Homo sapiens: one gene and its partners. The protein of the gene in region 4 purifies or fractionates together with the protein of the main gene of each other region. This does not show direct contact. Each region holds a gene or a part of one and is shown on either strand. Other genes may lie near its edges.

Evidence for each region.
Region 1: the proteins of PLXND1 (region 4) and NRP1 purify together in Homo sapiens (affinity purification with western blotting; one study listed by BioGRID). This does not show direct contact.
Region 2: the proteins of PLXND1 (region 4) and NPTN purify together in Homo sapiens (co-immunoprecipitation; one large-scale study listed by IntAct). This does not show direct contact.
Region 3: the proteins of PLXND1 (region 4) and KDR purify together in Homo sapiens (affinity purification with western blotting, with the first as the bait; one study listed by BioGRID). This does not show direct contact.
Region 5: the proteins of PLXND1 (region 4) and SCARB2 purify together in Homo sapiens (co-immunoprecipitation; one large-scale study listed by IntAct). This does not show direct contact.

The regions. Positions count from the first base shown.
Region 1 is NC_000010.11:33,215,207-33,221,571, reverse strand, and holds part of NRP1 (neuropilin-1 isoform a precursor), read left to right. Parts: intron 1-6,365. UniProt on the Homo sapiens protein: Cell-surface receptor involved in the development of the cardiovascular system, in angiogenesis, in the formation of certain neuronal circuits and in organogenesis outside the nervous system. Mediates the chemorepulsant activity of semaphorins.
Region 2 is NC_000015.10:73,593,852-73,600,216, reverse strand, and holds part of NPTN (neuroplastin isoform b precursor), read left to right. Parts: intron 1-2,847; coding exon 2,848-3,195; intron 3,196-6,365. UniProt on the Homo sapiens protein: Probable homophilic and heterophilic cell adhesion molecule involved in long term potentiation at hippocampal excitatory synapses through activation of p38MAPK. May also regulate neurite outgrowth by activating the FGFR1 signaling pathway.
Region 3 is NC_000004.12:55,117,380-55,123,744, reverse strand, and holds part of KDR (vascular endothelial growth factor receptor 2 precursor), read left to right. Parts: intron 1-2,554; coding exon 2,555-2,648; intron 2,649-4,944; coding exon 4,945-5,141; intron 5,142-6,365. UniProt on the Homo sapiens protein: Tyrosine-protein kinase that acts as a cell-surface receptor for VEGFA, VEGFC and VEGFD. Plays an essential role in the regulation of angiogenesis, vascular development, vascular permeability, and embryonic hematopoiesis.
Region 4 is NC_000003.12:129,570,799-129,577,163, reverse strand, and holds part of PLXND1 (plexin-D1 precursor), read left to right. Parts: intron 1-1,308; coding exon 1,309-1,398; intron 1,399-1,601; coding exon 1,602-1,695; intron 1,696-2,673; coding exon 2,674-2,828; intron 2,829-3,418; coding exon 3,419-3,570; intron 3,571-3,978; coding exon of another isoform or gene 3,979-4,099; intron 4,100-4,222; coding exon 4,223-4,322; intron 4,323-4,415; coding exon 4,416-4,555; intron 4,556-5,319; coding exon 5,320-5,487; intron 5,488-5,564; coding exon 5,565-5,655; intron 5,656-5,860; coding exon 5,861-6,124; intron 6,125-6,228; coding exon 6,229-6,365. UniProt on the Homo sapiens protein: Cell surface receptor for SEMA4A and for class 3 semaphorins, such as SEMA3A, SEMA3C and SEMA3E. Plays an important role in cell-cell signaling, and in regulating the migration of a wide spectrum of cell types.
Region 5 is NC_000004.12:76,205,579-76,211,943, reverse strand, and holds part of SCARB2 (lysosome membrane protein 2), read left to right. Parts: intron 1-6,365.

The DNA of each region.
Region 1 (6,365 bases), on a different chromosome or scaffold from region 4:
AAATCCGAGTTCAAATCCTGCCTTACTACTCACTAGCAGATTTTTTTGGTCAATATACTTACCTTTTAAAGCCTTAGTTATCTCACCTGGGAAATAGTCATAATAATTTATGCCATACAGCCTAGTTGTGATGATGCATTATTAATAGATAATGGATATAAGCACGTAGCACAGCCTGGCATGTGGTAGGTGCTTGTTTACTGGTACCTTTTCCACTAGACTGTAAGCTCCATGAAGGCAAGTATCATGCCGTTCATCTCTGCTTCCTGGATACTGACTACTACTTAGTAGATTTACAATAAGTAACTGTTGCATGAAAGATTCTCCAGCAGTTTTATTTATTTCTTTGTTTCTTTATTTTGAGACAGGGTCTTGCTCTGTCACTCAGGCTGCAGTGCAGTGGCATGATCATAGCTCACTGCACCCTCAACCTTCCAGGTTCAAGTGATCCTCCTACTTCAGCCTCTTGAATACATGTGGGACAACATGAGGGCACCAGTGTAGACAACTAATTGTAACCCCTATGTTGCTTGGGCTGGTCTCGAACTCCTGGACTCAAGCTATCCTCCCACCTCGGCCTCCCAAAGTACTGGGATTACAGGTGTGAGCTACTGCCCCTGGCCAGCTTTATCTTTTTATTTGTTTTTCTTTTTTTTTTTTTTTTTTTTTTTGAGACTGAGCCTTGCTCTGTCACCCAGGTTGGAGTGCAGTGACATGATTTTGGCTCATGGCAACCTCCACCTCCCAGGTTCCAGCGATTCTCCTGCTTCAGCCTCCTGAGTAGCTGGTACTACTACAGGAGTGCACCACCACACCTGGCTAATTTTTTGTATTTTTAGTAGAGATAGGTTTTCACCATGTTGGCCAGGCTGGTCTTGAACTCCTGACCTCAGGTGATCCACATGCCTCAGCCTCCCCAAAGTGCTGGGATTACAGGCGTGAGCCACCGCGCCCAGCCTGTCCATTTGTTTTCTTGCATGACTATGCTATATTCTGCAGTATATAGCAGTCATATTAGAATTCCTTTCCATTTTAGTAAATACATTGCCAAACTTTCATTGAAACAACCACCACCAACAAAAAACCTGTACAATGTGATCTTTATAGTAAGCTTGGAAGTTCAAAGACAGAATCAGTTGACCCACTCACTAAAAAGTAATTAAAAGCAAGCAATGTCTAAAAGTCTTTGAACTACCTTTAATATTATGTTATATATGTATTTGGGGTATTTAATTTTTTATTCCATTTTTCTGTTTATCCTCTTTAGTTTAATTATTTTTAGAGGAGAATGATACCGACTTTGGAAGGAAAAAAAATCACTTTGGCAATATTCCATGAAATTACAAGCAATTTTGAGAAGAGCTAATGAACAGGAAAAACTATACTTGTTTATAGTAGAGTTCAGCTTGGAAAGTAAAAACCAACATCTGATTTTTTAATGAAAAGTTTATTTATTTCCATCCCACAGACAGACTTGTTTATTATTTTAGGACCTAAGATTTAGAAAGTTCAAGGCCTTAGAGGCAGGAATTGGGTGGAGAAGGGTTTGAAAGAAGAAAGGACATTGAAAAGTTAGATATAACCTTGGCTTTATTTTTGATCAGCAGTTAGATGACAGAAAGTTCTAGGTCATTTTCAGAGCATTACAGATTTGTGCTGTTATTCATAAATTTGTAGAAACAAGGCCATTTGAGGTTTGGGTGGAAATTTCTGGCCCATTTCTTCAACCTTATCTCATGTCATTGTATTTAAAAAAAATGAGGTAAACTTCATAAAGACTCCAAACATGTTAGTCAAAATTCTGAATTTCCAGGCTCTTAGAGATTTATGTCACATCCTTTTAGTTGAATACAATTTTTTTTATACCTAAACTGTCCTTTTTAATTTTCACAAGGATTTCCCTGAGAGGTGATGCTAGGAATGTGAGCAAAGAAGGTAAATAATTTGTTCAATTTTTAAAAATAGTTAAATGATCTAGTTATGTAAACTTAGATGTCTAAAATAGCATATCCTAATATTTTCATACATAATTAAGTAGCTATTTTTCAAATAAGGTGCTTCCTTTCAGTTCCTAGTGCTAGTCTCTTAATCATGGTCTCCACTATACTTTTAAATATTTTCTCTCTAGTAAAATGTCTCTAGTCTCCAAATAATTGCCAGAAGCAGGTTTTTGGAGAGGCTAACACGTTACGATAGTCACATGGACAGAAGGCAGGCAGACATATCCAGGCTTGACTGTGGACTGTCCACTTAGTGTATGCATGACGGACCATGGATAAGACATTGAGACTCACTCTGATCTCCGTTTTCTGGTCTGTGAGGATCACCTTAATGCAACTATAATGAGGAGTCAATGAGAGGAAATTTGGAACACCCCTGGCTTAAACTAAGTGCTCACTAAATGGTACCCGTTAGACTAAAATAGTACATGGCACTCAATATATTGAACCTAGCATATGCCCCAGCAAGCAGAGCCTCTAATAAGACAGTAATTTCAAGTTTTTCTTCTTGATTATCAGAAGCAGATAATTTTCATTTTCTTGAAATGAAAATCAAAGGTCCCCTTGAGTAGAGATTAATGAAAGGAGGACTACAGTATTCCTGCTGGACTAGATGGTCCAGGAGAGCAGGGGACCTGTTTGCCTCATTTTCTGTTGTGTCCTGTATGCCTGGAACATAACAAATGCTTGGTGGTTACTTTTGAATGAAGGAAGTGCAGTTTTATGCACGCCTTCTGAGAAACAAGCGGCTGGACCTCAAATTTTCACCCTGCTGAGTAGTCACAATTCAATCTGGATTTTGTTTAAGCCTACCTAATGAAAGGTTACTGCTTGAACACATCACTTGGCTTCCAAAGCCACTAAAGCCCCAAGTTTTACCCTAATTTTTTGATTCAGAAATTATTTTTTAGAAATATAGTAATCCTGGACTGGGCGCAGTGGCTCACTCCTGTAATCCCAGCACTTTGGGAGGCCGAGGCAGGTGGATCACGAGGTCAGGAGATTGAGACCATCCTGGCTAACACAGTGAAACCCCATCTCTACTAAAAATACAAAAAATTACCCAGGTGTGGTGGCATGCACTTGTAGTCCCAGCTACTCAGAAGGCTGAGGCAGGAGAATGGCGTGAACCCAGGAGGCAGAGCTTGCAGTGAGCCGAGATTGTGCCACTGGCCACTGCACTCCAGCCTGGGCAACAGAGCAAGATTCCATCTCAAAAAAAAAAAAAAGAAAGAAAAAAGAAATATAGTAATCCTGGAAAATTCAGAGTTTGTCACCATATAGAGATATAAAGAAAATAAGATTGGAACAAACCATTCTGCTTTATAGGTGATTGATGAAGGGCATTTTCATTATTTTGACAAAGTAGGCTTCATCATTTTGGCAGAGATGGAAATCACGTTGGGCAATGGCTGCTTAACACACTCTGAACTCTGCTATCTTCTGTTATTAACCAGAAGTCTGTTACCCAGCGCTTCAACACATATTCATGTGCTCCTAAGTCAATCAGAATTCACAGTGATGATCTCAGACACCATAATATCCAGAGGTACTTTCTGAGTCATCAAGGAGAGATTAAATTATGCTCATTCAGGGTCTCCCATCGAATGCAGTTATTACTTTCTCATTCGTTGGAAATTGGTTAACTGGATATTTGATTTACCAGTATACCTCAGTTTTTCCATTAAAGCTGAGTACAGAGATTTACTGTAAAATAATATCACTGAAAATAACGACCTCAATCCTCCATTACAAAACTCATTTCTCCCTTCCATCCTGAAGTGGTCTTAAGCTTTCCAAACAAGGCTGCCAAGTGAAATACAAAATGTCCAGTTAAATTTGACGCAGACAAACAAGACATAATTTTTCAGAATAAGTATGTCCCATGCAATATTTGAGACATATGTGTACTAAAAAATTATTCATTATTTCTCTGAATTCTAATTTCACTGGGCATCTTGTTTCTTGTTTTGTTGTTTATTTGCTAAATCTGGCAACACTATTTCCAAAGGGTTTGACCTGCACCGGGCTGACCTGTACCAGCCTGCTATGAAGGGACAGAGTTAAACGCTAGCATCTCATTCAAACCTTGAATTAATTGTTAATGTAATTTTTCTGCAAATTATTGTTAAAAGTGAGTCACATAGTTTTCAGTCAAAGGTAAATCAAGTTGCCTCTTCATTTTTTTTTTTTTAATGAGGCAGCTATATGGAAGGAATAACAGTCTCACTTTGCACCATGGATATGTTGGCTAAATGGGGACAGGGCATCACTAAGTCTATGAATACAGAAACTGTGCCCCAGCCGAGTCTGCATTAGAGAAAGGGCATTAATCTGGTGACGGTTCTGCTCTCCTTACAGTATTCAAGTTAATTATGTTTGCCTCCAAATGGTAACATCTGGTCCCCATTACCAGCTAAACATTGCCTTTCTAAAAGCTTGTTTGGAATCAGGCAGGTATGAACACCGTGGCCAAAAAATGGCACTCTATTTTTAACACTACAGTTTCATAGTCCCTTAGTAAAATTGTTTTTGTAAATCTTTTTTTAATCCCGACTGAGTATATTCTTGGTTTCCAGATCCCAGCCTGGAGCAAATACTGTGGTTAAGTTACAGGAAAGGGCAATTGAGAAAATGACAGCTGCCTTTCATTGTATTAAGTTGATTCATTCAACAAATATTTGTTGAGCAAATACTATGTATAAAACAGGGCATGAAGAGTCATATAAAACAGAAAAATATGACTTAGTTCGTGTCCTCAAAGAAGTTAAAATCTGGGGAGGCAGAAAGCAGCATTCCAAAGAACTAAATGTGCTCATCAGCATTTGAGGGCTGGATATGGTGGCTCAAGCCTGTGACCCCAGCACTTTGGGAGGCCAAAATGGTAAGATCTCTTGACCCCAGTAGTTTGAGAGCAGCCTGGGCAACATAGCGAGACCAAAAAAAAAAAAATTGCCAATCATGGTAGCATCCACATGTAGTCCTAGCTACTCAGGAGACTGAGGTGGGAGGATTGCTTGAGGCCAAGAGTTCAAGGCTGCAGTGAGCCATGATCACACCACTCCACTCCAGCCTGGGTGACAGAGTGAGACCCTGTCTCTAAAAATAAAAATTAAAAAAAAGGCCGGGGTGTAGAGGGGCCAGGCGCCGTGGCTCACACCTGTAATCCCAGCACTTTGGGAGGCCGAGGCAGGCATCACGAGGTCAGGAGATCGAGACCATCCTGGCTAACACTGTGAAACCCCTCTCTACTAAAAATACAAAAAATAAGCCGGGCGTGGTGGCAGGCGCCTGGAGTCCTAGCTACTCGGGAGGCTGAGGCAGGAGAATGGCGTGAACCCGGGAGGTGGAGCTTGCAGTGAGCCAAGATCGCCCCACTGCACTCCAGCCTGGGAGACAGAGCGAGACTCCTTCTCAAAAAAAAAAAAAAAGAAAGAAAGAAAGAAGGGAAATGCAGATAAAATGGTGTGAAGAGGCCCAGAAATGGAAAACTGTGTCCAGTTGCAGAGAACAGAAAAACTGAGTAAACGATGTGGCATTTGAAAACAGGTCAGGATTTTAAGCAGTTCAGATAATGGAAAAGGGTAACATGACAGGGAATTCCTTGTGGAGGGAACAGAAAGAAAGCTCCCAAACTCCCAGAAGTAAGGAAGTTCTTCATGCCAATTGGCACTGGTTAAAGGAGTGAATGGGGAGAGGCCTTGCAAGGACATGACATGGAAGGCCTGCATGCCTGACTGAAAATGACGTGCGTAATTTCTAGACAAGAAGGCACTGAATGTCTGAGTAAAGAAACGACATGATCTGGACCATAGAACTCATGTGGAAAGTATCTGAGTAATGAATTCTTAAGGTTCAGCTGATAATGTGGACTTAGTTTAATTGCATTAGATGTTTGCCTCTCACTTAGGGGTAGTTATATTTTTAGGCTAAATTTTTATTATATAACGCAGAATTGAGTTGCTTCAAAGAAAAATAGGTTATCATTCTTGCACATGTTCTTGATTAGGATGTACAGTTTCTAAAGGAAAATACTTGAAGTGTTGGACATTTTGTCATTAAGCCAGCGTTGAATTCATCAACAACTGATACTCTCCTTGTGCTCAGAAGCTCCTTGGGCTGCTTTAGAAGACATAAAAAGGTCTATGATGCTGTTCATTGCCTTTGAAGATCTTATAATCTAGCTGTGGGTACATGACTAACAATCTTAAAGCCTTAGAGAGCAGTGGAATGCTGAGCTCTGTGCTACTTACATCATATTTCTGAGAAGGGAGAGCTCAGAATAAAAGCTAGAGTAGCTTGAAAAGTTCTCTTCATGAGTCTTAAGCTGGGTTTTGAGCAAAGGCAATGATGAGGATGACGTCT
Region 2 (6,365 bases), on a different chromosome or scaffold from region 4:
CCTTGATACAGGTAGAAAATTGAACTGACTCAGATCAGCATTCCTTACTCTTAGCAGGAAGTCTTGCCCAGGGTGGCATGATCTGGCTGAGTGACTCGCCCAGTTGTGTGCAGTGGGAATCATAGTCAGACTGTTTCTCAGCTACCTGTGACTTGTGTGTTATTAGGACTTGGGGTTACAGTGGAATTGGATGGATTCTTGGTGAAAGGATACTTTCAGGCATCTTTTTTACATTAGCATTGTCAACAGATTGATAAACAGGCTTAAGTCTAAGGCTGCTTTGAAGTACAATACAGAAGAAGGGAAAAAGTACAAAAGAAATCCACTAACAGTTCTAGGGCATAATCGAGTACATAATTACCGCATTTGAGAGGCTGTAACTCCCCAAGTTCACAGATAATGTGATAAGACCATTTGTGATTACCACTTATGGTCAAGAATATGATTAAAACAGAATAATACTTTTACTGCATTTCAGGGATTTACTGATATCCAGTTTTCTCTGGTGATTGAGCCAGTAGTAAAATAAATAAAACCAACTTCCTTTACTTCCCCTCCCTCCCTCCCTTCCTTTTCTTTCTTTCTTTCTTTCTTTTTTTTTTTTTGACGGAGTCTCGCTCTGTCGCCCAGGGCAGAGTACAGTGGCACGATCTTGGCTCACTGCAACCTCCGCCTCCTGGGTTCAAGTGATTCTTCTGTCTCAGCCTCCCGAGTACCTGGGACTACAGGTGAGCACCACCATGCCCAACTAATTTTTGTGTTTATAGTAGAGACGGGGTTTCACCATACTGGCCAGGCTGGTCTTGAACTCCTGACCTCATGATCCTCCCGCCTCAGCCTCCCAAAGTGCTGGAATTACAGGTGTGAACCATCACGCCCGGCCCTCCTTTACTTCTTTGTTTATATTAGCTGGCATTGACTTTGACAGGTGGGCAGGTGGTAGTTTGTGAGACCGAGACATGGCTCCTTGGATACCACTTTATTGGGCAGTGAGCTCAGCTCTTCATGCAGGGGCTTGGGGGCTCCTTTCTGTAATTCTAAAGCTTCTCCTGCATCTGAGAATGACATCTGTTGGGCTTCTTGGGGCCTCTGGTAGATATTTCCTTACAAGGAATGCATGCTGGATCTGAAGAGGTAGTTTAAAATGGCATATTAAAGGCAGAACGTTTAGTCTAAGCCTGTTAATCACTGCATTCCTGTGCTCCCCAGAGTCTGAAAATGTCAGGAATTGAAAGACTAGTATGAATTTGGAGGTCTTGGCCTCTACTTGAGTAAGTATAGTACCTCCATTAATGTTCTTAGTCCATGGTGTGGGGTTATCACCAAAGGCAAATACTGCTATGGATGTAAACAGGAATTTTTCCACTTAGTAACCTCCATTTTCAGCTAGCCCTGTTAACATCCTTGGCTTCTGGACTGTAGGAAAACAGTTCCATTTATTTCATCCTTTCCTCTGGAATGTTCTTAATTTGATGTTGGCAGATCCTGACCTCACTCCCTGCTTACTGCACAGGGGCTGGCTTGGCTTATGCAGCAGGCCTCCCAGGGGACGTTTCCAAGCCAATCAGAATGCCCTCTTTTAGTGTCTCTCTTTATACCTTCGGATACTGTCTGAATCAGTAGAAATGCTGAATGAACCCTAGGTGGGGTGGAAGGGTAAGAGAGAGTATGCTTGCACTCTGATTTTGTTTCCTATGGACCTAACTCCAAGTTTTTAAACTAAGCCTGGATTTTTTTTTTTTTTAACTCTTTCTGCCATTTCCACCTTGTCTTATGGAAGTGTAACCTCAAGCAAATTATGGGCAATTAGAGGTAGGCATCAACTTTAGTTCCTGGGCAGTTCCTAAGAGTGTTGGTTGAGGCCTGGCTTTCACCCTAGTGTTTAGTTTAATTCATCAGGGTACATTTCTCATTCTTCTGAGCTGGCTTCTAGAAGCCAGGCAATTCAACTGTATGGAGCCTGTCAAATACCATAGCTTTTCAGATTTTTCTAGGTAATGGATCTATGGGGTTATGGAGGGCACAGTCCCTCCATTAGCTGGCAGTGAGTTGGGTTGCTGGTATTGTTGGTCCCACTTCTGAGCTGACCCACAAAGTATTAATATCTCACTGTGGTGTGAAGTACAGACTGTCTTGTTCTCCTGAGGGTCTGCATTCAGGAAGAGGCTGCCTAACGCTAAACAACTGGGTTGTTTGTTTGCCATAGGCCCAGGGAAGAATAGGAGGTGGAGAAAGTCTAATCGAACCCAGGATAGAATCCTGTGTGAGAGAGAAATTTGCTACTCTTTCAGTTGAAATTTGAACTCTGAATCCCAAGAGAAGGCACCAGTAGGTCATTTAATACTTCTTGTTGAGGCTTGCAAAAGACACTGCATTTCTAACAAAGCGTTTGCCCATCCAAAAGAGAGATCCTGATTTGGCATATAAAACTACTGCCTCTTCTGGTTATCTTTCATCACTTGCCTGAGTTTAAAAAGGTAATAAATGGTTTGTGTTCTAAGGAAAGAGGCTCTTCCCAAGACCTGAGGCTTTCTCATTCCTACCAGCTGGGCCCATTGCTAAAATGCTTTCCAGTGGGCTTGCTTCTGCCTGGCCAGCACCTGGGCTGCCCCAGCTTGTAATTAGCCTGCCTTTGCTTCATAAGCTTCCCAGGGTGTGGTTCTTCTTCTAAAAGCTTGTATGAATTGCTGTACTGTCTCTTTATAGTTTAAAAATGAATCCTTTTTTGTTCTTTGCAACTCATTTGCTTTTTTCTTTTCTTTTCTTTAAATTACTATTAACACCTGTTGATTCTTTTTTTTTTTTCTGATTGGCCTGTCACTGCATTCCTGCTCCCCCTCCCTCTAGCTGGGTTTGTCAAGTCGCCCATGTCAGAAACTAAGCTCACGGGGGACGCCTTTGAGCTGTACTGTGACGTGGTCGGGAGCCCCACGCCAGAGATCCAGTGGTGGTACGCAGAAGTCAACCGGGCAGAGTCTTTCAGACAGCTGTGGGACGGTGCTCGGAAGCGCCGTGTCACCGTAAACACCGCCTACGGGTCAAACGGCGTGAGTGTGCTGAGAATAACCCGGCTCACCTTGGAGGACTCTGGGACTTACGAGTGCAGGGCCAGCAACGACCCCAAGAGGAATGACTTGAGGCAAAACCCCTCCATAACATGGATTCGAGCCCAGGCCACCATAAGCGTCCTTCAGAGTGAGTCCAGCACCCTACAGTAGTAGTACTGTAGTCATTAGAGGTGGCCCAATGACCCTTCCCTTCTGCATCCTTTCCCTCTTCCCCAGTATGATCACTCACCCCACCCCTTGTCTTCGTTTTTTTTTCAATCCCATGACCCTTCTGGTTGTAGTGTATGAAAACATCTGTGGCAACTTTTTTTCTTCTTTTCTTTGCCGTTCTCTCTGCCTCCCTTATCCCCCAACCCTTCTCTGTGTCTTTCTTCTCAGGAACAAAGAACTTGAGGAAATCCGTGACTGTCCAAAATCATCTGTGTTGGGAAGAGTTGGGGAGGGAGAACTGGGAAGCTTAAATTAAAACTCATAAAACCAGGCAGTCCAAGGAGGGTAGTGTTGAAATGGTTTTCCCTCCCCTTTGATTTTGTAGTAGGTTTCCTGCTATACTTTTGCTGATTTCTTCTCTGGTGCCTTTCTATTTTTGTTTCTCTCCCCAGTCTAACTACTTTTTATTTCTTCTGTTCTTCTGTTTGAAGCTCTCTAAGTAGCTGCCTTCACCTCTATGGTTTTAAGTTTGTGTCTGCCCAGCCTCTTCCTTTAACTGTGACTTGGTGTCATCTTGTTGTGATGGGAATGTTGCCATGGGTGCAGTGTGGTGGTGTGTTTTGGTTGTTGGGTGGCATGTAAGCTTGGATATTTTCATAGTTCCAGCTCTTTTTCTTTTCTAAAACCGTGGCATGTGCTTCTCTGATAACAGCCCTCTACTGCAGCAGTGTACTCCTCACTGGGCCTGCTAATTAGTCTCCTCTTTAAAAGCAGCAGCCTGGGACTTCCTTCTTATGTTTTGCTGTTAGGAGCCAGGTGACACTAAGCTGCAAATTATTATTTTTTTAGCCCATCACACTGTTTGGAAGTCAGAGTTGCAGTTGATTCCTGTTCACGGTTTGACTCTGATGAGTAGCTGTTGGCACAGTGTACCTTATCCCAGAGCATGGGAACTCCAGACATAGTGTGGGGACCACTCACACTGGCCTTTTCTTTGTGTCTTGAAAAAAGAGGAAACTAACTTCCAACCTGGTTTCTCATAGTGATGGGGTGAGCTGACCAGCTGGCTCAGAATCCTCTCCTTGTAGCAGGTATGCGTGAGACATATGACACCGGGACTTTTGTGGCCACTTCTCTCTCTTTCTTGAAAGTGACTTGCTACCTTATGTTGAGAAGCAGAGAGAGGGAGAAGCCACCACAGAACCAACGTTCCTGGCCAAGAAGAGTTCTGGCCCCACATCAAACCTGGTTATAATTGAGGGGACATTCACTTTTGGAAAGATCCTCTGGGTTTTTCACCTTCTCTTTGAGGACACAATGAGAGATCTATAGCCAGTTCCAGCTTAAAGAGCTGATTGATCTAGAGAAAGTAAGAATAGTAAAATCTTACTTTGATGAGGAATTTGGTAATAACATAAAGTAGTAAGACATGGGCCTTGAGTCTATATACTTAGATGGAAAATAGCAAATTAGTGTCTGTTCTTTGTAGCCACTTGAAGATCCTATGGGTAAAAAAAGAGTCCTTTGTAGGGCAGTGGTAGGAGAGGCTGCTGCAGTTGGCACTGTTGAATCAAAGAACCTGCTTCTGGAAAGAGGAAAAGAAAACCTTGTCTATGTGAAAATGGGGAACATTAACCCAGTGATTTTTTTTTTAACAATATTTTTACCCTGCACGCCTCCTTCTCCTGCCCCCTTGCTCCTTTCCTTATAAAAGCAGAATTACCTACATGGCCACAAAGGTCTGTGGAAGTTTATAGGTATGGACTGGGCTGGGCATTTGCACTTATACTTCCAAGAGCCTGACTCATAGCTAGAATGGCCATGCCAAGGGGCTAGAAAAAGATGAGGCATTGGGGTACCTACCTACCAATCCCGAGAATACATAGCATTCCCCAGTTTACTTAGAATTGTCTGCATGTGGTTGAATCAAATCCAAATCCTGGCTAGACTCTCTTCAGACTTCCCCATCAGTCAGTTAACCCAAGTTAGCTGTTTTGGAGAGCCAGGAGGTTGTTGCTGCTGCTGCTGCTTTTTTTTTTTTTTTTTTAAAACACCCTGGATCCAACTCTAATTGGACTGTTTTATGATCTCAGCGTCCCAAAAGACATTGCTCTATGGGGACATCAGGTGTTCTATCTAAGAATGACCTCCTGGTAGTACTTTCCCCAAAGCTCATTGAGTATGTAAGGCAAGAAGAGAAGTGTGCCCAGTTTTTAGGTATCTCTCTGGCCATAGCATGTTCTTTATATATGCATGATGGCTGGGGTAAGGGTCTCCTATCCACTGCTTTTAAATAGACATCAGTGGCAGGTAAACACATTTGAACTTCTCCTAAATGTTCATCTCTCTTGGACTTTGGGCAGCGCTTGGCCACAAAAATAAAAGCCCCACCTTCATCCTGGTGCAGAATGCAGTTGAGGCACCATGGCCAAGGAACTTGGTGTAGCACTGTTTTTCATATACAGCAATCACAGGAGGCAGGTTACCCTACCCCACAACCCTCCTATGGTGCAGAATCATATTTAAACCTATTTAAATTATCCACTTGCTCCCAGTGACTCTCTCCTGGATCTTTAACACTTAAGGGAAAAAGTGCTTTCCTTTGCCTTCAAAGAATACTTGGCAGAAAGTCTACCAGGTTGCTTTCATCAACTTCTTAATCTCCCTGAGCTGCAGTGGTCATTTGCATCGCCACAGGTAAGAGTAGCATTTACTTTGGCCTCCTTGTATTTAAACATCTGGAAGCTCTTGGCCTCATTCTCAGAGTTTACCCTTTCTCAGTGCAGTCTGAGAGGAATACCCAGAACGAGAGTCCCAAGTGGGACAGAAAATGAAATTGGATAATAAAAATTAAGTAAAAACCTAAAAGTGTGTTTGGGTTTTAATGTTGCCTTTATATTTTTTTAATTTCTCTTCTGTGGAGTACTGGTTCTATCTTTTTCTCTTTTGTTTTTGCTTGGTTTTGATTTTTCTTGGAATTGTGATGCTTTCTGCTGATGGTGTGTGTGCGCCTTCCATTGCAGGGTTTGCAGCCGTTCTGCTCGACTTCTTAAGGCCCAGGGATTTGGCTTCTGTCCAGTGTGTCTTGGAAACCATGGGACACCACTGCGCTAACGTGTTTACATGCATCTGCTTCTGTCTTAGTGG
Region 3 (6,365 bases), on a different chromosome or scaffold from region 4:
GGATTTGAACATAGAAGGGCTTTTTATTGAGTAGTAGCATGTGTACCTCTTACAGTTATTTCTTTAGAACTTTCTGAAGAGTCCAGCTCAAGCTTGCCAATGAAAACGAATGACATTTAATGGAGCAAAAACAAAAAACAAAAAACTATGTTGGTCTACAAATATGAATTTGAAGTTATTGAGAGCCTTGTTGAATAGATTTTTGTTGTAAACGTGTCTCTAGAATAGTATGGCATAGTCTCAGCTTCCTATGAATGAAGGACATACCTTTTCTTTTTTAAAATATTTGTTACACAGGAAAGTGTGTCTAGAATGTGATCTGTGGCAATAAATTATGAGAGACCTTCAAGAGTTTCTGATTTTGGTAGCCGAGTGGGCACAGTTTATTGAGAATCATTTTTACTGCCATTTGTTTTCTCACAAGAATGTGCCCAAATAATGGTTTTTTTCTCATTTGGATGGCAGTGTGAATTGTACATCATGTTTTCAGCATCTTTCTCAACCTAGTGTTCCCCAGTCAAGTTTGAAATCTGTGTTATCCAAATGAATTGTTTTCATTTTCCTTTTCTTAGACAAAGTGGGACTCCAGGTTTCATTTTGCTTTTAAACATTTTGGTTTTTTGTTTGCCTGTTTTGGGGGCAGTTATTTCTTTCATATTAAAAAGTACTGTGCAGGCTGGGTGCAGTGGCTCATTCCTGTAATCCCAGCACTTAGGGAAGCAGAGGCAGGAGGATCGCTTGAGTCCAGGAGTTCAAGAAGTGCCTGGGCAACATAGCGAGACCCCATTCTCTATTTAAAACATAAATGTAACCCCCGTTCCACGCACAAAGTACTGTGCAAATTAATTAAACATGACCACCCAGACCAGCAACTGTCCAAGAGTGGCCCATAGACCATCTGTGGTAGGATAATTTGAAATGCTTGTTAAAATGCAGATTTGTAGACCCAGGGATATTCTGACAGAGTCTAAAGTCTTAAGAACAAAACTGTTCTAAACATAAGTCAGTACCAATGCCAGTTAATTTCTGAGATATATTGATATAACTTAGTTTCCAGTTTTTTAAAAACCATATTATTGACTTAAAAACCATGATATTGACCAGTTATGTCAGTAACTTATTTTGCACATCTGTGTGGTGTGTGAGAACATGTGCAGTCACTTATTCATTTTGCCTGCATTTGTTCATATTGGGATCCTCAGATTCAATGCACTGGATGTTTGCACTGGGTATTTACTTATACTCTCTCTATTTATTCCGTCTCATACTTCGTCCTATTTGTTCATACTCTCTTATTTGCCCAGCAAGGTCAATGCCAGTTTAGGCCTAGGGAGTCATTTTTTCTTAGTTGATATGACTTAGAAAGCTTGGGAGCCTGCCCAACATCAATTACTTTTTTAAAGCTGGTATTTTCTAGGTCTTGATATTTATTAAGACCCTAGCATAGTGGACAATTTTTCTTTCTCTCATGCTTTTTCAACACCTCATAGCTCTTCACATTTAGTTGACAGAGAATTCAGTTATCTTGCTGTAGAGTGACCCATGGTGAGGAATCTATGCCATGGTACTTTTCTGGTTCTTATCCCTTATAGGTAAAGACAAGTTTCTTATGTCTGAAGCTTGATGTCAGGATGAGTTCAGGGCTTTGATGAATAAGTTCAGATCTCCCAATTGTAATTCATTAGCATTGCACTTAAAAAAATTTATATACGTTTTTAAAAAAGGGTAATGCTAATGAATTACAATAGAGAGAAAAGTACATTAGTTTGCATGTATGTGTGAAACTGGGAAAATTTTTCACGAAAATATTCATATACTTTTTAAAAAAAGGGTAATGCTAATGAATTACAGTAGACAGAAAAGTATATTAATTTGCACATATGTGTAAAATTGGGAAAATTCCACACATACATAAAAGTATATTAATATGCATGTATGTGTGGAATTGGGGAATGTTTTCTCTTCCTCAGTTTCTCTCCCTTGCTTTTAATGTACAGTCTTTATGAGCCATTATTTCAGCTGTGGCAGTTTGGTTACCAGGGGAAGCGCACTAGAAAATTGATAAAGGAAAATGAGACAAGGTCATAGATTCTCTCACTCCCTTCAGGGTACGTAGATGAACTATATAAAAATCCGTCTAAGTGGGATTCGTTAATCAGCAATTTAGTCAAATGTGTACATCCTATGTTCTATAAGAAATGTCAGTGGGTCCTTTCCCAAGGGAGTGAGATCATCAGATGAAGGTTCATTTGGTTTCAATGTCCCGTATCCTTTTGTAAGACCTTGAAGTTGGCAATGCAGGAAAACAGGAACTCCACCCTAGCTCCATGAATTGCAGAACTGTTGTGTTGGTTTATGACCATCTGCCCATTCTTCCTGTTATGACACAGCTTGTGAACTTTTACTGAGAATGGTGAAAAGTAAATTCCCAGTTTTATACAATGAATTGCTGAAGAGGCCTTTTAAAGTATAGAGTATGCATTGTTTATGGAAGGTGTTTCCTATTAGGTCTAACTCAGTGGCAACTACATTCATTTATTTAATTTGTTTCTAGGTTTGCCTAGTGTTTCTCTTGATCTGCCCAGGCTCAGCATACAAAAAGACATACTTACAATTAAGGCTAATACAACTCTTCAAATTACTTGCAGGTAAGGATTCATTCTAGATCTAGATTTCTTGTGTTAAGTAACTGATTGTTTATTGAGTGGAAATAATTTCCAGTAGAGCAGAATTATAATAGAGCTTGTAGTAATTGTTCATAAGTGGTGAGGTTTCTAAGAACTGATGTAATAATGGAAAATGAGAAGAATTTTCTCTCAAAAATTCTGTACAATTTTGCTGGTGTTTTTATACTATTCTCTGCCAACATGCATACACACACACACACACACACGCACACAAATACACACCCACACCCACATTCCAATAACCAGTACAGCCACCTGGCGTATAGTAGACATACGCTCAATAAATATGAATGAATAAATGAAGTTGAGGGCATACATTTAAGGAATAGAGTTGAAAAAATTTGGGACTATATTTATTATGCTTGGTATGATTCTTGAACACTTATTATCCCTTTCCAAAAACTTTGCTTTATAAGAAATTTATTACTATAATTACTTAGGCAGTAATATTTAATAGCAATTTAATATTTAGTGGGTAATATTACTGAGCGCATGATCTACATAAATAATGGACTTCGGGCCCTGCCTTGATATTCTGGAATGCATCTTTCCCCACTTGCTAGCAAGAAGTCATGCTATTGATTTTTGATAACTGGAGAAGTAGACTTCTTTGTCAAGAAGAAGAGGCCTTTAAATTTTGCCTTTCAACCCTTACCCCAGGACGAAAGATAGAAGACCCTTGGGTTTAACATAGTGATCACACACGAAAGGCATGGAGCCTTCTTAGGACCTGTGTGTTTTTGGTAGAGACTGTGACAAGTGGAGGTGATGTTACCCTCCTGGAAGAGTGCTGGGGGTCCACAAAGGACCTTGGGTAGGTTATTGCCATTGCTTCATACTTGTTGAATACTAAGCATTAAACCGAATGACATACATCTATTTTAGACTGCAGTATAAAGAATACCCTAGCCCCTTACCAATACCCAGCCCTTGGGAAAAAACACAGTAGCAGGTGCTGTTTCTCTAGCTTTACTTGTTTAAGACACATTTCCCATTAGATTTTCCTTTTACCGACCCTCGATAACAAGGTTATTTGAAATCCCCAAGGATCCCATGCTCCCTTTTTAAAACTCTGCATAAACATTTCTTATGTTCTGAAAAAAACCATGGAGTGTGTTAAAAGTAACTTCATTGATTTAGCTGCAACTTCCTGGAAATTTTAAGTTCTTTGAATGAAGGGCCAATAATGTTACATTCTTCTTGATGTTGACTATCTTCTTATCTTCCTTGGGGCCTTGTAGAGAAATGCTGCAGTACAAGCCATCTATGTTTTAATGCGAGGTCCTTACAAGGTCCTGAGGGACTCTTACTTGCACCTCCTTCCTTCCTAACCTCACTTCTTACTCCCCTTTGCTCACTCTTACCTGGCTGCTCTGGTTTCCTGGCTGTTCCCTTAATACTCCAGATATGCACCTGCTCCAGGGCCTTTCCATGTGCTGTTTTTGCTCCTGTAATACTGCTCTTCATGATGTTCCTATGGCTAGCTTTATCAAGACCACCTCCTGCAAAATTCTTTACTCTTTTCTTTGTATCTTCTATATTTTTCTCCATAGTACTAAACACTATCTTTTATACAATAAACTTTCCTTACTTTTTAATTGCCTGTTTTCTCCAGTTAGACTGAGGTTCCATAAAGGCATTGATTTTTGTCTGATTTGTTCACTGCTCTTTCTCTAGTCCTTAACAAGTTTGGCACATAGTAGATGCTTAATAGATATTTGTTGAAAGAAAGAATGCATTAATTAATGGAAAACTCAGGAATCTTTATAAGTGACTTCTGAAGCTGAGTTTATAACTTTTCATCATATGTCAATCTGACTTGTTGGTAGAAGACTTTGTTTTTTTTTTTTTGAGGCAGGGTTGCCCTCTTGCCCAGGCTGAAGTGCAGTGGTGTGATTTTGGCTCACTGCAACCTCCACCTCCCGGGTTCAAGCAATTCTCATGCCTCAGCCTCCTGAGTAGCTGGGATTACAGGCATGCGCCACCACACCTGGCTCATTTTTGTATTTTTAGTAGAGACAGGGTTTTACCATGTTGCCCAGCCTGGTCTCGAACTCCTGGCCTCAGGTGATCCATCCGCCTTGGCCTCCCAAAGTGCTGGGATTATAGGCATGAGCCACCATGCCTGGCCGGTAGAAGACTGACTGTGTCTGTTGAAGAGTTTATTTAAGTTTCAAAACCAAATTTTCTCTTTTCTTAGAAATAGCCTCACAGTCTGGCACTTCATATTAATACCTCCCTGAAATTAATTTTTCAGGGGACAGAGGGACTTGGACTGGCTTTGGCCCAATAATCAGAGTGGCAGTGAGCAAAGGGTGGAGGTGACTGAGTGCAGCGATGGCCTCTTCTGTAAGACACTCACAATTCCAAAAGTGATCGGAAATGACACTGGAGCCTACAAGTGCTTCTACCGGGAAACTGACTTGGCCTCGGTCATTTATGTCTATGTTCAAGGTAAGTGGTGAAATAAAATTCATTTCCCACGTCTCTTTACCAGTTATAAAAGACAATAGGCTCAAAGAAGAATTGAGTACAACAAAGGGCTTGCTCTAAAGGCTGTTTGCCAAGAGGAATACACACAATTCTTCTCTCCTGAGGCTTTCTCTGAGAAATAAGACTCATTGATTCTGGAGCTTGGGCCGTGTTACCTCTTTTTTGCCCAGTTAGTTTGGGTCTGATCTTTGTTTCCAAGGTAAATCTGTGTTCACTGTTGGCCATTGAGACTTATAAAAAGTCTTCCTATGTTTGAGAAGAAAACCTAAAATTCTTGAAATCGAGGAAGATTTGGGGGTGAATTATGGAGAAATTTCTGTGGAGAGATAAGTTATCTACAGCAGAGTAGGAGATTTTCCCAAGAATGCATAGGAAAGCATTTTTTGCCAAGGGCTCTGGAGTTTTTTGCACATAGGAACCTTTTTTTCTTACTAGTATTTCATAAAAAACAATTCCCATACTCATGTGCAAATAAAGACATTGCTTCAGACTCTTTTCAGGACAATGTTTCTTTCCTTTGCTTGTTTGGTCTGAGATCTTGGATGATATGCTGTATCTTTCTAGGATGTGCAGTTTGGGATTGATATTATGAAGGCTGACTTAACATCCATATAGTATAAAATAAATGTCACACATATTCTGCATTTATAATGAGTTATGCATTCTTTTGTGTTTCAAAAATCTTACACTATCTTATCTTTTCTGTGAAAACCTAACTTAACTAATGAGATCCCTATGATATAAATTTAAGGAATGTAAGGGCTGCATCATAGTTTGGTTGGATGTACCAAATATTTTTCTTTTCAGTGAAGATAAACAGACATTTTATGTATTTACGTATATGCCTTTTTACATCCCAGAGTATTTGAGACAGGTGAAGATGACTTAGACTTTTTTCCCAGAAGCAGCTTTTACAGGGCAAGAATTTCATCAGCTTTGGGAAACACACTTGCATATCTCTGCTTACATTTCAGTAGTGTAATATGGTCAGTGCAATGAAAAAGTGGAGACCACATCAAAATAACCTATGCCACTGGATTCACAATGTTTGAGAAATATCTTTGCCCAGAGTAAGCACTGTCAAAGATAGAATTCTGTGCCCTCCTCCTTCCCTCCACAAGATTTGAAAGAGACAAGGCTCACATCTTGGAGAATTTCTGGCTCCTTTTGACCTGGCAGTCTTGA
Region 4 (6,365 bases):
GTTCTGAGGTGGCTGAGGACTAAGAGGAGGGACCCATCTCCAGCTCAGCATGGCAGGGGACAAAACGGGCTTTTGGCCCCGTCAGCAGCCACTTTCCTGTGTTAGCTTCCGGGCTGGGACCCCAGAAGCAGGGAGGTTGACCTGCATTCTCCTCAGGGTGTCACATCTGCCAGCCACAGGGACATAAACAGGAAGCTCTGCCACGCAGCTGGCTGGGTGCTTGGCGTAATACACAAAACCTGAGTCTGTTTACTCAGCAAATATGTATTGGTGCTGCTCCTGAGAAGGCCAGATGAGCCTGGGGAACTGAGCCTCATGACACAAACATTATTGGATACCTCCTGCATACTAATGATAGCAAGCACATATTAGGCCCCTACCGTGTGCGGCCCCTTGAGGTACACAATCTCCAGTTTTCCCAGCAACCCTATTCCCATTGTCCAGGTAGGAAAACCAAGCCTCAGAGAAGGGGTCAACTTGCATGAGGTCACATAGCTGGGACATGCAGAGGTGGGGTTTGAACCCAGGCCAGGGCTCTTCCAGCTGCTTTCTGCTGCCCTTGGGGGTGGTGTCAGAGCGGCCGAGCCCTGACCGTCCCCGGTTGGCGAGGGGACAGGTAAGCAGCCAGGCAAGAGGCTAAGGGTGATGCCTGGCACACAGGGATGGGGGCAGCTCTAGGAGCTTCGTAGTGCCCCAGCAGACACCTGAATAGTTGCTGCTGAGGGAATGAATGAGGATCAAGTGAGGCACACCCCTTTGATTTGAGGGCAGCATCTGGGAAGGCTTCAGAACAGGGGGCTTTTAAGCTGGATCCTGAAGGCTGTGTTGAGCTTTGCTGGGTGGTAGAAAGGAAGACAGGTGTTCAGGCGAGGGGAGGGCTCAGGCAAAGGCCGGGGCAGGAGAGTCTGGCCGTGTTGGGCGTTGGGGCACGTCTGAGCAGGGCCTGGTAGGGCAGGATGGGAGGTGGGAAGGCTCGAAGAGCAGGGGAACCCCGCTGGGAGTGGAGCCTTAGGAGCTGAATACAAGGCCCCTGGGTTAGATCACTGGGGATGCTGGAGAGGCTTTTAGTGGTGCTGAGCGCATGAGGCCAAAGTTCTTGGCATTCCTGCACTGCTTGCCTCCCTCAAACATTGGACGTGATGGCCAGGAAGGGGATTTTGGGGGACGGGACAGCCCATGCAAAGGCCTGACAGTTCGACCAAGCCCACCTTTCCCAGCAGGAGCCCGTGGTGTCCTGCTGGAGTTAGAGGGCAATGCATGCTGGCTTGGTTCTCCTCAAACCCGCCTCCCACTCCCTGTTTCCCACAGGGTGCAGCCCTGGAGTGTAGTTTTGGGCTGGAGGAGATCTTCGAGGCTGTGTGGGTGAATGAGTCTGTTGTACGCTGTGACCAGGTGGTGGTGAGTGGGGTGACTCCAGCATGGGCGGAGGGCGGGCCTGCGTTAAGTCCAGATGCTGTACCCCTCACCCCACCCTGCCTCTCTCTACCTTCTGGTTCCCCCATCCCCAGCAGCCCCAACTTCATCTGCCTCCATGACACCCATCCCCAGCAGAGCCCCAGGCATTGCCCATGCCCCCTATGCTCTTTTCTGCCCTTTTGCAGCTGCACACGACCCGGAAGAGCCAGGTGTTCCCGCTCAGCCTCCAACTAAAGGGGCGGCCAGCCCGATTCCTGGACAGCCCTGAGCCCATGACAGGTGGGCACCCCCACCCGCCCCACATGGCCTCGGGGCCTCAGTGCAGTGGGTGGGGCTCAGCCTTGTGCGACTCATTCCAGTGGTTGCCCCAAAGCCGCAGATGTCCCACCCCATTGTTCTCCAGCACACACACAGCCTCATATCCCAGCCCTGCCATGCCATGCCAGGCTCCAGGCCTTGGGGTCTCCGTGCATAGTTTCCCCTGCCTTCCTGGGCCTGATCGTCCCCATAGGAAACAGGACACAGTCCCTCTGCAGAGCTTGTAAGGACCTGATGAGCCAGGGCTCGCCCAACCTTGAGCGTGGCATCTGGGGTGTGGTCAGCTCCCCTCGCGTGGCAGCTGTGCAGTTGCTGTGACTGTCTGTGTTGGGTCCACTCTCCAGGGGCTCCTCTGTTCATGGGGAGTCTCAGGCATCCCTGGTGGACGTGGTGCCCTCCAGATTCCCACCATGAAGGTCCCAGAACGGCCCTGCATACCCAAGGTCCTGGAGAACCCTCCCTGCCCTCCTCTTTGGGCTACTTGGAGGGTTTGAAGCCCCAAAGTACTCATAGTCCACATTACTCAGGGATCCCCAGCATCCTAGGGCCCCGCCGGGGTTGATCAGACCCACTGAGGTCTGGGTGGGATCTGGCTTTACCACCCACAGGCCTCGTGAGCTCAGGCGAGTCCCTCCTGTCTGAGCGTCAGCCTCTTCTCTGTAAAGTGAGGCTGACCTGAGGCTCCCAGCTGGAGTCTCTGTGAGGGGAAGGAAATCAATGAAGCAGGGGCTGCACTGTGCTCAGCACAGGCCCCAGGGGTTTGGGGAAGGGGCTAAGAACCTCAGGGGATCCTGACCCCCAGAATCAGGACTTCCTCTGGGTGGGGCACCACAATGATGGGGCGCAGACCTCTTGACAGTTGTTGTGTGTGGAGGGCACAGCGGTGTTGGGGCATGCACCGCAGAGCGGGGCTGACCGAGCTGCCCCGTGTCTCCCCAGTCATGGTCTATAACTGTGCCATGGGCAGCCCCGACTGTTCCCAGTGCCTGGGCCGCGAAGACCTGGGTCACCTGTGCATGTGGAGTGATGGCTGCCGCCTGCGGGGGCCTCTGCAGCCCATGGCTGGCACCTGCCCCGCCCCCGAGATCCACGCGGTAAGCATGCCCAGTGGAGGCACGTGGCACCCGCACTCCGGCACGGCGCATGCGCAGTGCCCTCGAGGGTCCCACTTCTTGGGGACCCAAACGGCACATACACCGACACATGGGTGCAGTATCACCTGTGAACAAAAGGAAGTGCTCTGCCTCACAGAGCTGATGTTTCAGTGGGGGAGGTGGACAGTAATAAATAAGGAAATGAATAAATTATAGAAGGCATTGGAAGTGTGGCGTGGAGGAGACACCGAGGGCTGAATGTTGTTAGTTTCAGGGGATACCATGATCACTAAAGCCACCAATGACATGGCCAAACATTGCTCCTGGAAGCTGACCTCAGCATCCTCCAGGAGACCCCCTAAGTAGCGTCCCCAGGCCCACGTGGGCTCAGTAATGCACACCCACATCCTCCTTGCCAGCACAGTGACCTGCCAAGTGGCCACAGTCCCAGCCCCACCTGAGCCTCCAGACCTTCCTCTAAGCAGTGGGTCTGCACGGCTGTGCCCTGCTGGGTGCCTGTGACTGTGGGCAGAAGCCTGCTGGCCTGCAGCCTCAGATCCCATTCGCCCCTCTCTCGGGTCACCTGGCAGATTGAGCCCCTGAGTGGCCCGTTGGACGGTGGGACCCTGCTGACCATCCGAGGAAGGAACCTGGGCCGGCGGCTCAGTGACGTGGCCCACGGCGTGTGGATTGGTGGTGTGGCCTGTGAGCCACTGCCTGACAGATACACGGTGTCGGAGGAGTGAGTAGCCACGGTGCCCCCACCTACCTTCTCCAGCAGTGCCAGCCTCTGCTCTGTCCTCCTCACTCCTCCCTCCCCATCCTCTGTCCTCACTCTGCTGCTTTCTGGAAGACTGTTGCTTCGTGGCCTCCAGGCCTGTGCCGAAGCCATTCCCACCACACATCCTGCCGTTTCTGCTTGGGGCATCTGCTTTATCCCTCCAGCTCTGGCTCTGATGCCCACTCCTCTGGGAAGCCCTCACAGGCTGCCCTAGCACAGCCCTTCTTCCACCTAAGCCTTGCTCTGAGGAAAATCATTTGCAATTAAAAAGGCTGGGGCTACTGGCATGGTTTAGAGATCTGTGACTGGCCCAGAGGGGCCGTAGGAAATACGCGTGAGCAGAGACTGAACTGGCTTTCCTTTTGGGAGGCCGTGCATCAGGCGTGTGGAAGAGCCGTCATCTACCAGCCCAGCAGACGTTCTCATGATCAGAGACCCTTTTGTCCCACCCCCGTGTCTTATAGTTGCAGAACTGTGGGAAACTGATGGGGTAAATTATACATAGAAGGCATTGGAAGTGTGGCATGGCGTGGAATGGGGCGATCCCTGAGCCTGGCTCTAGGGTGGCCGTGGGGGCCAAGGACCGCTGGCTGACCACAGCACCTCCCCTCAGGATCGTGTGTGTCACAGGGCCAGCCCCAGGACCACTCTCAGGTGTGGTGACCGTGAACGCCTCTAAGGAGGGCAAGTCCCGGGACCGCTTCTCCTACGTGGTAAGGGGGGGCTGCAGCCCACTGTCCGGCCCGCCCAGCACGCACACTCCCGGGGGCTGGCCCGAGGCCCAAACGCCTGCCTTCCTCCCACAGCTGCCCCTGGTCCACTCCCTGGAGCCTACCATGGGCCCCAAGGCCGGGGGCACCAGGATCACCATCCATGGGAATGACCTCCATGTAGGCTCCGAGCTCCAGGTCCTGGTGAACGACACAGACCCCTGCACGGAGCTGATGTAAGCCTCTGGGCCTGGCCCATCCCTTCCAGCCCAGAGAAATCAATGGGCTTGGGGGCTGGCGGGCTGGAGGTGACATCCTTGAGCCAAGCCTCTCTTGGGTCTTCATTGGCTGTGTCCCCTAAGCCAAGCCCCTTCTCCTCTCTGAGCCTCAGTTTCCTCAGCTGGTAAGAATAGTACCAGTAATTGGAAGAAGGGCTTTGTGCCAGGTATACAGTAGTTGCTCCATAAGTGATAGCTGTAATGAGAATGGTGTTGATTGCACACACACAGATCTTCTGGCTGGCCCAGGGGTGTGGTGAGTGGCAGGGGTGTGGTTGGAGTCTGTTGGCGAAACACCTTTGTCTTTATTATGCACTTATTGTGTACCAGACCCCACTAATGGGCATTGCTGGGACACCAAGAGGAGCACAACATAGACCTCAAGGGAAGGGCAGACATACCCACGGGAAGTAGGAACATCCAGTGGGGCTAGGATTGGGAGAAAAGTCAGTGCCTTCAGGGATCTGGGGAGAGAGACTTCACCAGGGTTGGAGGCGGGAGAGAAGACCTGGGAAGGCTTCCTGGAGGAGGTGGGATGGGGCGGAATTTGGAAGTGTAAGGAAACAGCTGGGCACTAACTGGGCAGAAGATGAGTTGGGACCAGTCAAGGAGGCCTTGAACCCCAGGCCAAGTGCGTGGACTTGTGCCCCAGGTCTCAGGGGCATTGGCGGTGGGTGAGCAGCAGAAGGCAGGCCCTGCTGATAACCTGCTGCTCCCCCCAGGCGCACAGATACCAGCATCGCCTGCACCATGCCTGAGGGGGCCCTGCCGGCTCCGGTGCCTGTGTGTGTGCGCTTCGAGCGTCGGGGCTGCGTGCACGGCAACCTCACCTTCTGGTACATGCAGAACCCGGTCATCACGGCCATCAGTCCCCGCCGCAGCCCTGTCAGGTGAGACTGGCACCCCGCCCTTCCCCCAGGCTCTCTGGGGCTGCAGGTGCACTGATAGGTTTTGCTGTCCCCCGCAGTGGCGGCAGGACCATCACAGTGGCTGGTGAGCGTTTCCACATGGTGCAGAATGTGTCCATGGCCGTCCACCACATTGGCCGGGAGCCCACGGTGAGGCATTCGGGGGCCTGATGGGTGGGAGGGGGTGGCCCAGGCACAGCCAGGGCCCTAACTGACCAGGCCTCCTCCCACTGCATCTCTGTCCCCTCTTCCTCCCTCTGCCTCTGTGTCTCCTCAAACCCCACTCCCCACCGTTTCTCCATGCCCATCTGTCCATCCTGCATCCCGGCCTGGGCCCCTGGCTCTCCTGCACCAGCTCTGCAAGGTTCTCAACTCCACCCTCATCACCTGCCCGTCCCCCGGGGCCCTGAGCAACGCATCAGCGCCAGTGGACTTCTTCATCAATGGGCGGGCCTACGCAGACGAGGTGGCTGTGGCTGAGGAGCTACTGGACCCCGAGGAGGCACAGCGGGGCAGCAGGTTCCGCCTGGACTACCTCCCCAACCCACAGTTCTCTACGGCCAAGAGGGAGAAGTGGATCAAGCACCACCCCGGGGAGCCTCTCACCCTCGTTATCCACGTGAGCACCAAAGGGGCCGGGGTAGGCGGGGGCAAGCGAGCCAGCCTCAGCTGTGGGCCTCGGGAGCACTTCCCCATGAGCATCCTCCCCCTTTGCACCCACAGAAGGAGCAGGACAGCCTGGGGCTCCAGAGTCACGAGTACCGGGTCAAGATAGGCCAAGTAAGCTGCGACATCCAGATTGTCTCTGACAGAATCATCCACTGCTCGGTCAACGAGTCCCTGGGCGCGGCCGTGGGGCA
Region 5 (6,365 bases), on a different chromosome or scaffold from region 4:
GTTGATATTTCCAAGTGTTTTTCTCCATGAGGAATGGACTCTGTTCTGATAAGTAATAGTACAGGGAAGTGGACTTTCAGAGCTGCTCAATCCCAGCTAAGGAGGACTGCACGGTGTATTGTATGAAACTAAAGGACAGGGCTAGTTTCAGTGGGCAGGTGTGGAAATACTGTTGTCATTAGAGGTAAGTCACACATCGCTATTCTGCTTTTTCCTGGATTACCTGTAGGGTGGTAGGTAGCATGGGACAGTGGGAAAGATTGAGGATGTTACACTCCTGGGCATGAAACCTAGCTTCCACTATGTCCCAGCTCGGTGACCGTGGGCTGTTTAATCTTACTTGATTCATGTTTTCCCCATCTGTAAATAGGGATAATAAGGACTAACGATCACATCTGCTTTGTCAAATAATTCTTATAACCTTAAGGTGTGATCTTTCTGGGATATAGTTAGTGCTTAATAGGTGATAGCAACTTTATTTTTATTAGAAGCCACACAAAGAAAATACGTGAGATTTGGAGTCAGATTCCATATGTTCAAATCCTATCCTTGCCAGTATAAGCTTTATGACTTACGTCAAATAACTTACTTGGTCCTCAATTTCATTGCTTGTAAAACTGGGGATATGAGCTGTTAGCTAACTTGGGCACAGTGATGCATTTACCATGAAACTCGCAAAGTTAAGCTTTGGGTCTCTCACTTGCACAGACCCTTGCGAAGCCCTGTACCTCATTCTATATCCCAAATTTTCTTTTTTCTTAAGAAGGACCCTTCAAATTGTATAAGCTTCAGGACCCACAAAACCTGGATTTGTCTCTGCATGTGTATTATTGTAGGACCAAGTATAAAGCACTTAGCATAGTATCAGGCACAGAATAGGTAATCAATATGTGGCAGTCATCTTTATTGCCACTAGTATTACTATGGGAGAATTCATTCATAACTTGATTCTAATGTAGTTATAATATAATCTACTCTGATATTTCCAGTTCTTTGTTTTTTCATTTGAAGATTGTCTATGCCCCGACTTGTCTATGTCAAAAAGGGAAGAGGGAAAAGGGATGAAATTCAAATGAGTAGGTGTGGGAAGCTTAGTAAGAGAATTCCTATCCAAAAAGTTGTCTCAAATGATAATTGTCCTTGAACCCTGCAGTGACCAGAGGTAACTGAAGAGAGACTTTTAATTTTGGCCAGTGAATATCGTGGAAGGAACCAAGACAATTTTGTTTCATTTTTGGCCTCAGTGGTGACTGCCTCGTATTGGGCAAGGCCTGTAATTGTTTCTGCTTCAATTTTCTCATTTGCAAGAGAGGCATAATAGTACTTCTCTTTTTCCCACACCCTCTTCCTAGGGGATATTGTGAGCATTAATAAGGCATTTCCTTACAAGCGTTTGGGCCTTCATGAAGAGAGAGCTTTGCAGAGACCCAGCAGTTCCTTTTCCTCCCTTAGGCCTGGAAAGGCAGGAGTTTACGTTACATTTCATCTGGTATCCCAGTGAACTGCCTTGACACCTAGCACAGTGCCTGAGATACATATTAAATGCCTCTTCACTCGCCTGTGATCATTTTAATAGAAAGAAGAGTGTCCTGAGAATCAGCAGAACTGAATCAAACATTTTTTTTCTGTCCCTAAGGATTTCTTGGACTAAGCTGAACAAGCACAGTGGCAAGTTATTTAATCCCTCAAATCCTAAGGATCCTCATTTTGAAAATAGGAACAATAAGGATAAGAATACTTAACTCAGAGTTGTCACAAGAATGAAATAATATGATATCTATAAAGCACCCAGCACAATGCCTCGCACAATGCCTGAACGTTAACAGTTGTTATGTCTTTAGCTATATTTGTCATCTGTGAATTGAAACTTATTATACAAGCTATGGTTCCTCTTAGCTCCAAACTTCTGAGATCCCATGACCTTTAAGAGCAGCTATGCAGTTCAGAATATTAAGTTTGCGCTCCTAATCTCTGCAGACGTGCTGGCAGGTTGACTGTCTCCCAGTAATAGGGATGCAGAACTGGCCACAGTCAGGGCTGGCCAACAAGGGATGGGATGGCAAGGGAACCAGTGGGAGACTGTTTACACCTTTGACTTCCTCTTCACAGGTCAAGGCAGGACTGTAGCATTAGGTCTCAGAGATGCAATGAACAGGACAAATACACTTCCCCTTCATCTGGACCTGAGGCTCTGGGCAAGTCAGTACCAGCTGGTTTCTTTTGGGAGCCATAGAAACTCTGGAGCTGTTCTACCGATTCCTCAAGAAGTAAAATATAGGCCAGGCGTGGTGGCTCACGCCTGTTATCCTAACACTTTGGGAGGCTGAATCGGGTGGATCACAAGGTCGGGAGTTCGAGACCAGCCTGGCCAATATGGTGAAACCCTGTCTCTACTAAAAATACAGAAATTAGCTAGGCATGGTGGCAGGTGCCTGTAGTCCCAGCTACTCGGGAGGCTGAGGCAGGAGAATCGCTTGAATCCGGGAGGCGGAGGTTGCAGTGAGCCAAGATGGCTCCCTTGAACTCCAGCCTGGGCGACAGAGCAAGACTCTGTCTCAAAAAAAATAAAAATAAAAATAAAAAAAGAAGTAAAATGTAATCACTGATAACCAGATTGCTTTGATTGGTGACTATGGGATCTTGTTTTTTAAAGTCAAATCAGCAAAACATCTTTATTGATGTGTATGTAAAGGCATTCAGCTATATATCATTTTAAAAGGCTCCTTCTTGCATATCTACCTCATCTCCTGAGTTGCCTCTATTCAAAGAAGACTTATCTTAGTCTGAGATTTTTCTTGATCAGAAAAAAACCTGTAAAGATATCTTAAATCTGTTATCTTACGGTCAAGGAAATTGAGGCTCTTGGAATAGAAGTGACTTATCTAAAGTCAAATGGAGAGGGAAGGAGAGAGCGTGCCAGCTAGCCTTCTGATCCTGAACCCACTTTTCCCATCTCAAGGATGACCATACATCCCATTTGCCTGGAATAGTCCTACATGGTTTCTGTGTACCTGTTGTGCTGGTGTAATCACTAACACCCCCTTTCCTCCAAAAGATTTCTGCTTTGGACAATAAATTCTATGGCCATCCCTCACCTCTCATGCTACATTGTCCTTACAGACCACAATGTATCCCGCTTCTTGGCTCTCTTAAGGAGTTGAGGCCTACTCAAACTAGCTCTGGCAAGAGAGGATTCTTTTTTTTGTTTCTGTAAATCTGGAAGGGGAAGCTCATAGAAATCAAAGGGCAAGAACCACGGCACAGTAAGGCCTCCTGAGAGGACAACCGAAAGTGGAAAGTCAGCAGGAAGCAGGCACACTCTGCCTCCCACTTTTTCCTCTGCTTTCTCCACCAACAGGCTTCCTCTGTTTACTCAGCCTGGCTCTGTACTCATCCGGGCTTGCTCAGCCCCGCCTCAGTGTGACTTTCCAGCTGTTGACCTCTCATAGACATGCTTCATCTCCTAGTTTCTCTTTTCCAAGTTTATAACGGAGCAATGTGATTGGCTCAGCACAGGAAGAAACTATAGCACTGTAAACGGAGGCAGTGTCGTTAATTTCCTTGCAAGATTCTCTAACTCCTAAGCAAAATTATCCAAATTCTTTCCTGGCTTTTAGAAACACGATCTTGTGATATCAAAATCATATTAAGTTTATTTTAGTGTCTTACTAATTCATGTTGACTATGAGTGCATTCCTTATTAATGATTAAGACAATATAGTAGGCTAACAGTTGTCAGCATAGCCCCTAGACTCTAGGAGATGCATCTAAATCACTTACAAAGATTTAGAAAATACCAGACCCCATCCCAGACTTGCTGAATCAGACTCATTAGGAACAGAACTCAGGTTAAAGTGCTTATCATAAAATCCATTACTGGAGGCAGGTTGCTGTGGGATCGTAATCTGCAATTTTGGGAATATGCATTTTTAAAAAAGGTGTTTATATTTGTATAGTGATTATTTTAGACCATGTCTTCATTCCTTAAGATGGTAATTCTGACTGAGGAGATTACTACTTATAATTACTATTAATCTGCAAGTTTACATTAAAGGAAATATTATTTGGTGAGGAGGGGAAGATTCCTGCCTGTGGAAACTACTTTGCTTTATTGTTAAATAAATCCAAGATTTCATTCTGTCAGGCCACAGCAGAGGGGCCATCTGTTCTGCCAGACATTTGCTTATTTCCCAGGAAGAATCAGGAGGTGGAATTATAAGCTCATTGATGAAAACATAGGATGTTGGCCAAGTTACTAGACATTCCTGGCCATATCATCAAGATATGCACTATCTATACACTATACACTAAGGAAGGGACCATTTTTAATCCAAGCTGGTAACTGGAAAAAACAACCAAGGAAAAATAAAGACCACTTTAGGTGTTTGCTTTCTATATCTAAATGCACTTTTGGGTACATGCTTTGGCAGTCATTCTTTCATTTGACAAATATTTACTGAGTGTGTACCATTTGCAAGGCAGTGTGCTAAGAGCTATGGATATAACACTAAACAAGAGGCAGTCTCTACCCTTGCAGATTTTATAATCCAATTTAAACTCCTGGGCCCCTCATATTCTTAAAAATTATTGAGGACCCCAAAGAACTTATGTTTCCATACCTATTGATAGTTACAATATTAGAAATTGAAACTGATATGTATTTTTGAGAAATGTTTAAAACAGAAGACTACACAAGCACATATTCCAATATGACATCATTATATATCACGTAACCTCTGGAAGACTCCACTCTACACTCAGAGAAATAATAGAATTAAAAACGCAAATGATACCTTAGTATTAAAATAGTTTTGACCTTGTGGGCGCCTCCTAAGAAGGTCTTCGGGCTCCCCAGGGGTCCTGAGATCACACTTTGAGAACTGTTGATCTAGTTTTCATTTAATTATTTTTTTAGAATATTTTTAAAAATACATAATATCCCTGTTTTATATTCCTGTAAGGCCAGTTTGGAAGCTATCTTGTTAATGTTTTCAAACAACCAGGATTTTGCTTGGTGTGTCTTTGATTTACTGTGTCCTTTTGGCTTTCCTGTGAGTCCAGTGTTAAAAATAGGAGTTTGGGCCATCAGTAATTCCAGTTCCACAATCTCTTGTCTTTCCCCGAGTGCTGATCAAAGTAGACAAGAGCATTCATATCTCCATAATTGAATTACTCAGTAATTCCCTTCTGGCCTCAGCCCTGCGGGGATTTTCAACCCATATGACGTAATTTGGTATTTTAATCTAGTATGAAAGCTCTCTTTGAAGGTAGATGTCCTGTCGTATTTAGTTTTGTGTCTTTTCTTACTGCCAAATGCAATGTCTTATTCAAAATAGATGGTCAGTAAGTGTTACTTGGATGAATAGAGAAAATAATTTCTTTGGAAATGATTTTGTTTGCATTTTGTTGTTTAGTCTCACATTTTGCCTCACTCTGTAGGCCAGTGGTCACATGTTTGTCTCATGAATGATTTATACCTTTAAAATCTGGAAACTTCACGTATTGGTCCAGATTTCCAGCTTCTCTTGAAACATGTGGATGTTCTTTGGTACTCGTCATACCAAGTTCTGTGTGGTAGCTGTCTCGGCAGAAAAGAGGCTGACCCTTAGAAGAGACCTGCCTTCCCTGTTTCCCACTGTCTTAGTCCATTCAGGCTGCTGTCACAAAATAGCATAGACTGGGTGGCTTATAAACAACAGAAATTTATTTCTTACAGTTCTGGAGGCTAGGAAGTCCAAGATCAAGGCCCCGGCAGATTTGGGGTATGGTGAGGGTCCACTGCCTCATAGATTATGGTCTTCTCACTCTAACCTCACATGGCAAATGAGCTCTCTGGGGTACCTTTTATGAGAACTAATCCCATTCGAGAGGGTTCTACGCTCGTGACCTAATCACCTCCAAAGGCCCCACCTCCTAATCTCACCACCTTGGGGGTAAGGATATCAACAAAGGAGTTTTGAGGGGACATAAACATTCAGACCACAGCACCCACCGTCCTTTGCGCCCTTATTGGCTCCCAAGGCCCAGTGAAGGTATCCGTTGTTGTGCATGTGCTGTTGTGTTTCTTAGAGTAGAGAAATGTTTCTCTATATCTGACACTCCTTACCAAAAGAAGGAAAATGAAAGATAGCTTGAGAGGATCATGTGTTTAACAGAAATGGGGGAGGGCATGTTTCTCTGTAGAAATGAATATTGCTGCTGGGGTTTGACATGCAAACAAATGTACAAACCCATGGCCTGTGTCACTCATTTGCCCTAGCCATCTGGCCCCTTCAGCATCTGAATTTTACACACTTTCCAGAGACAGTGTGAGGCAGAGTGCCATTGTTACACTAATGTAATCACTCATCACAAGTCCCATTTTT